2 separate regions of the Homo sapiens genome follow, and region 1 is linked to region 2. The links come from fine-mapping of genetic effects on plasma protein levels. Region 2 holds a variant in brackets. A gene starts in the other region. All regions are shown on their reverse strands.

What was found. PIP is the posterior inclusion probability: the model's chance that the variant is causal. Protein levels are from antibody-based Olink assays in UK Biobank. Linkage for the fine-mapping came from a reference panel and not from the study's own genotypes, which makes the PIPs less certain.
Region 1: it holds the start of FABP9, and the variant in region 2 is fine-mapped to the plasma level of the FABP9 protein (UK Biobank, PIP above 0.99).

What each region holds. Positions count from the first base shown.
Region 1 is chr8:81,460,307-81,463,333 of GRCh38, reverse strand. FABP9 (fatty acid binding protein 9) reads left to right here and starts at 1,755. Exons shown (of 4, transcript NM_001080526.2): 1 at 1,755-1,883. The coding sequence starts at 1,811. LOC101927118 (a long non-coding RNA gene) reads right to left here and starts at 1,876. Exons shown (of 9, transcript XR_001745980.2): 1 at 1,360-1,876.
Region 2 is chr17:39,968,119-39,970,618 of GRCh38, reverse strand. GSDMA (gasdermin A) reads right to left here. Exons shown (of 12, transcript NM_178171.5): 4 at 1-137. Among named protein-coding and RNA genes, the nearest start is that of GSDMA, 6.4 kb to the right of the region's middle. The variant G/C (reference allele first, on the strand shown) is at 1,526.

The DNA of each region.
Region 1 (3,027 bases), not on the chromosome of region 2:
GCCATGGTGGTTTGCTGCACCTATCAACCCATCACGTAGGTATTAAGCCCCACATGCATTAGCTATTTATCCTGATGCTCTCCCTCCCCCCATAGCCCTGGCCCCAACAGGCTCCAGTGTGCATTGTTCTCCTCCTTGTGTCCATGTGTTCTTACTGTTCAGCTCCCACTTATAAGTGAGAACATGAGGTGTTTTTCTCTTCCTGCGTTAGTTTGCTGAGGATAATTGAAACCAGAAATCTGATGTTAGCTTTTGTCTCATGGGCCAACTGAGTTCTAAACGGACCACAGGAATATCATTCTATGACAGGAGAATCAAAACAACAAGGAAGATTATGCTGATGGGAGACCTTTGCTACACTACCCAGCTGGCCAACAGGCATAGCAATGTATGCTTGCTTTCTTTAAAGCAGAGAGTGCATACACATCTCGAACCAGTTAAGCAAACGTTTAACAACTTGCTCTATATTTGAACATCACCTCTGAATGCACTTTCAACTGCTGAGGCACTTATTTTGAGCTTGGGTCTTAGTTTCCTGAAATTAACTCCAGGATTTTCACTTACCCTGTTTTGCACTGTAGATAATTTAATAATTGTCCCACCCATAAAGATATCACATTATATGTTTCTTCTTTATATGTTTTCATCAAAAGCCATCCTTTATTCCACTTAAGTTATTGTTTTACAGTACCAAAATATCAACCTCCTGTTTATTTTGTTCACAAACAATATTTTCTGAATTAAATAAATACTTCATACAAAGCAGGTAAAAATATAAATATTCTTCTTCTGGTCCCTGACACTAACTTTCCAACATCTTCTAAAGTTAACTGGAGTTCAAAACCGTAATGTAAATCAACAGCTACTGAATCTACTCCTTCTTACTAAACTCAGTACCTGCAAAGTCCACTTCCATTATTGGGGTTGCAGAAGATGGTTTCAGAAGTAATGGCACAGAGATTGAAACCATTTGCTGCCTTTGTCTTTCTTTTAGAATGCAGATTCCAAACATCTTTTTCTATATGAAACTTGCCAAAATTTTTTCTTATAATTTAAAATATCTTTTAATGTAGAGTTTACTTTGTAAGCCTGAAAGACGAATTTTGTAGGCATTCGCTCTGCTTCCTTTTCAGAGCTTAAATCATATACTATTATCCAATGATAATTGTCACCTTTCTTTCCTGTCCTCAATTACCTTCGATTAACAACAATGATAATATATTAATAATACCCTCCATTTCCCTCCAAGCAATTATAGGCATTTTAGTTACATTAACTAATATCAACCCATCAACCCTGTAAGGAAGGGAAGGGAAGATATTATTTTAATGAAGAGGATGTTTGAGCACTGTGACTTACCCAAACAAAAAACAGCTGAGGTGGACCAAGCAAGGATTTCTTGTCTTAGGTAGGAAAACATCTCAGCCAGGTGTTTATCAATTTGTCAGGATATTCCTCCAGGGTTGACTCAGTATTCATTGTTCAAAAAGCTGATGTCTATTGAAGATTGTCTCCGTTCCACAAGTAATATTTGTCAGGTGACTTGGGTGTAAATCTTTTTGCTAGAAGCTAAAATCATTGACCAGAATTTAATTTTACATGCTAATTTTCTGTCTCTTAATTTGGAGGTAAATAAAATGAGTCAAATGCTGGTGCCTAGAATCTTTAGTCTTGCTGCTGTTGCCCATTGGCCATTTCAGAAGAGTCACGTGATGAAGACGCTCTTTAAATTAAACTACTGGCAGCACCGTAATGCCTATATTTCTTTGGTTTTCAATTACGAGTGGCTCTTCTCAGCAAGTGTTCCATGATGGTTGAGCCCTTCTTGGGAACCTGGAAGCTGGTCTCCAGTGAAAACTTTGAGGATTACATGAAAGAACTGGGTGAGAAATACCATTACAAATTTGGAAATTGGCAAAGCATTTTGTGATGTGATTGGGTTTGTACTTTACCATGAATTTTCCTACAATTATCTTCCTTTTGTGATCCTAGGGTATATAGACTAACACAATGTATGCTTCTACTTTTGCTTTTTTAAATTACTAGTAATAATTGTCTCTTTTTGGAAGACTAGGCCCACAGACACCTCTGTCCAGTCATGATCCATATATTTAAGCCCATTTATCCTTTTTGAAAATACTTCACCTAACTTCTAGATAGAATTTCATTTTAGCTTGGTCATTTCATTTAATAACATTTTTCCCAGCTTCAAATTTATAGACAGTAATCACTACCTACAATTAAATTGATCAATTAAATTTGTTTCAAGGTTTAAGTTATAGCTTTAAAACAGCAGTATCAACTAACAAAATTTCTAGTTGGTTAATTTTTAGAGTTCTCATAAATGTGAGAGATATTTTATAAACATGGTTTTGAAGAATTACAAATCTGAAGAAACACAACATTTTTACTCATTGAATGTCTCACCACTGGATATTCCTCAGAATTATAAACCCTACCAATCCTTTAATCTCTAACTCAAGTCATTTAGTTACACATTAATTATAATGACTTGGGTGTATAATAGCTAAACTGTTCTTTACTAATGGAAGAACAGCAATTATTTCATATTTTTCATATTTAATTAAGAGAAACCTCCCTTGTAGTAAACTGTATACAAAGCCAAGGACTTTCTTATCTTTACTTTTTTTTAACTTACATAACATGCTTAATGGATGCTTACAATTATTAATTATGTTTACTCATTCTAGACAATGAAATAACAATGCCTTATCCCCATAATAAGTCAATGTGCTTATAAATGTAATATTTGTTCCTCTGATGTAGTCAATATTCACTTTCTCAGAGGGTCATAAGAAACAAGTTTTTCTGTCTCTTCATAGATTTATAGACTCACTTGTTTTGAATAAAAATTGGGGGGGTATATAAAAAACTTGGGCCTTATGGCCAGAGTAGCACTTGTGTTGACTGGGAGCTGGGTTTAGGCATAATACAAGCAAGAATAACAGCTGAGCAGTTTCTATGTGCCAGTACCATGCTAACCCCTTTCATTTAACCTTTTAAAAC
Region 2 (2,500 bases):
GGGAGAAGCAGGCCTCTGCCTTGCCGGCTCGCTCCAGTGTGACCTCCTGCACCGTCTCCACCACCTCCATCACCACATACAGGTTCTCCCCTTGATCTTGCATCTCCTTCAGGAATGGGTGGTCTGCTGCCAGCTTCCTGTTGCAGGAGAAACATAAGGGAACCGTTCAGAGCTCCTTCCTGCCTGTACCACACCCTCCTCTTTCCTTCTGTCATTCCCAGGAACTAGACATTGTGGTGGCAGGGAAGGAGTGAGGACTCTGGACTAGGGCTGAGGTTGAAACCCAGATCTCATGCTTACTGGCAGGGCAGCTTCTCTGAGTCTTAATTGCCTCATCTATGAAATGAGTATAATGATGCTGACCTCCTGGGTTGCTCAGAGATAAACTCGGTAATTGGGCCAGCACCTGGCCAGGAACAGGGCCTCTTGGGTGCTTCTTACCCCCTTTTCCTCCAGTTCGGGGGTAGATGCTCCCCCCCTCTTTCCTCCCCATTCATCTCTCTGGGATCCCGGGGGTAGATGCTCCCCCCCTCTTTCCTCCCCATTCATCTCTCTGGGATCCTTTCTCTCCACATCTTATGCTCTCTCTTGCTGTTAACACCAGTTCCTCCTCTCCACTTGCTCCTTCTGTCTGCTTCCATATATAAACTCCCTAATCCTAACAAATTTGTTTGCTTTGATCATGCCACTCCCTCAAATTACTACCCTATTTTTTCCTTCATTTCATTGGCAAATATATCAAAAAAATTCTTTTTTTTTTTGAGACGGAGTCTCACTCACTCTGTCACCCAGGCTGGAGTGCAGTGGCACGATCTTGGCTCACTACAACCTCTGCCTCCCGGGTTCAAGCGATTCTTCTCCCTCAGCCTCCTGAATAGCTGGGATTACAGATGTGAGCCACCATGCCCGGTCCACCTAAATTCTTTATAATTTGCCTTGTATTTCCACTACTCAGCTGAAATTACAATGATCTCTTACCTGTCAGTCTCAATGACCTCGCCTAACTCTGTGCAATACTCGATCCTGCTGTGGAAACCCTCCGTGCAACGCTGGCTTCTCTTGGCTTCCAGTCACAGTGTACCACCCTGGCTCAACTCCAGTACTTCTAGTTCCTAAATCTTATCCATTCTGTCTGCACCTCATTTTCCAGTTTCTTTGGTTCTCTAAAATTTTATGTTCTGTAAGATTCTGTTCTCAGTCCTGTTTTCTCAACTCCCTCTAAAAGCTCCCCACACCCAACTCACTCCTATAGTTTTTTCTTTTTTTTTTTTTTTAAGGTCCCACTCTGTTGCCCAGGCTGAAGTGCAGTGGCTCGATCATAACTCACTGCAGACTTGAGCTCTTGGGCTTAAGTGATCCCCTTGCCTCAACCTCCTGAGTAGCTGGGACTCTAGGCGCACCACCATGCCCGGCTAATATTGCGTTTTTTGTGGAGATGGGGGTTTCACTCTCTTGCCCAGGCTGGTTTGAACTCCTGGGCTCAAGCAATCCTGCCTTGGCTTCCCAAAGTGCTGGGCTTACGGGA[G/C]TGAGACTCCTCCCCTGGCTCCTACAGTTTTAATCTTTATAGTGCTGATTACCTTGTGTGTATCTTCACTTTGACCTCTTTCCTGAGCTCCAGGCCCTTATTTCCAATCACCTGTTCAACATGCTCAGCTGATGTCTCAGCAGAACCAGAAACTCAAAACATCCAAAAGGAACTCACAATCTCCAAATCTACCTCTAACCTGTGTCTTCCTGTTTGTCACCTGTAATGGTAGCTTTAATGTCCTATAATGTCACAACCTGGGTAAAATCTCGCAGTCACCTTTGACAAAACCCTTTCCCTCATCCTGCAATCAGCTACCAAGCCCAGGCCATTCTATCACCGTTGGCAATGGGCATTGCATCCATTCCTCCCTCTTCACTCCTCTTGCCCTTCCCCAGCTCGGGTCCTCAGTTTTCGTTGCTCATGGGATAGAAGAACAGTGTCTTGGCTGGGGGTGGTGGCTCACGCCTGTAATCCCAGCACTTTGGGAGGCCGAGGTAGGCGGATCACCTGAGGTCAGGAGTTCGAGACCAGCCTGGCCAACATGGTAAAACCCCATCTCTTCCAAAAATACAAAAATTAGCTGGATGTAGTGGCGTGCGCCTGCAATCCCAGCTACTCAGGAGGCTGAGGCAGGAGGACTGCTTGAACCTGGGAAGCGGAGGTTGCAGTGACCTGGTATCGTGTCACTGCACTCCAGCCTGTGCAACAGAGAGAGACTCCGTCTCAAAAAAAAAAAAAAAAAAAAAAAAAAGACCGGGCTCAGTGGCTCACGCCTGTAATCCCAGCACTTTTGGGGGCTGAGGCAGGCGGATCACCTCAGGTCAGGAGTACAAGACCAGCCTGACTAACATGGTGAAACCCCATCTCTACTAATAATACAAAAATTAGCCGGGTGTGGTGGCTCACGAGCCACCTTACCTCCTTCTTTCAACCACTACTTAACTGGGATTACTTCCCTGTAATCCCAGAACT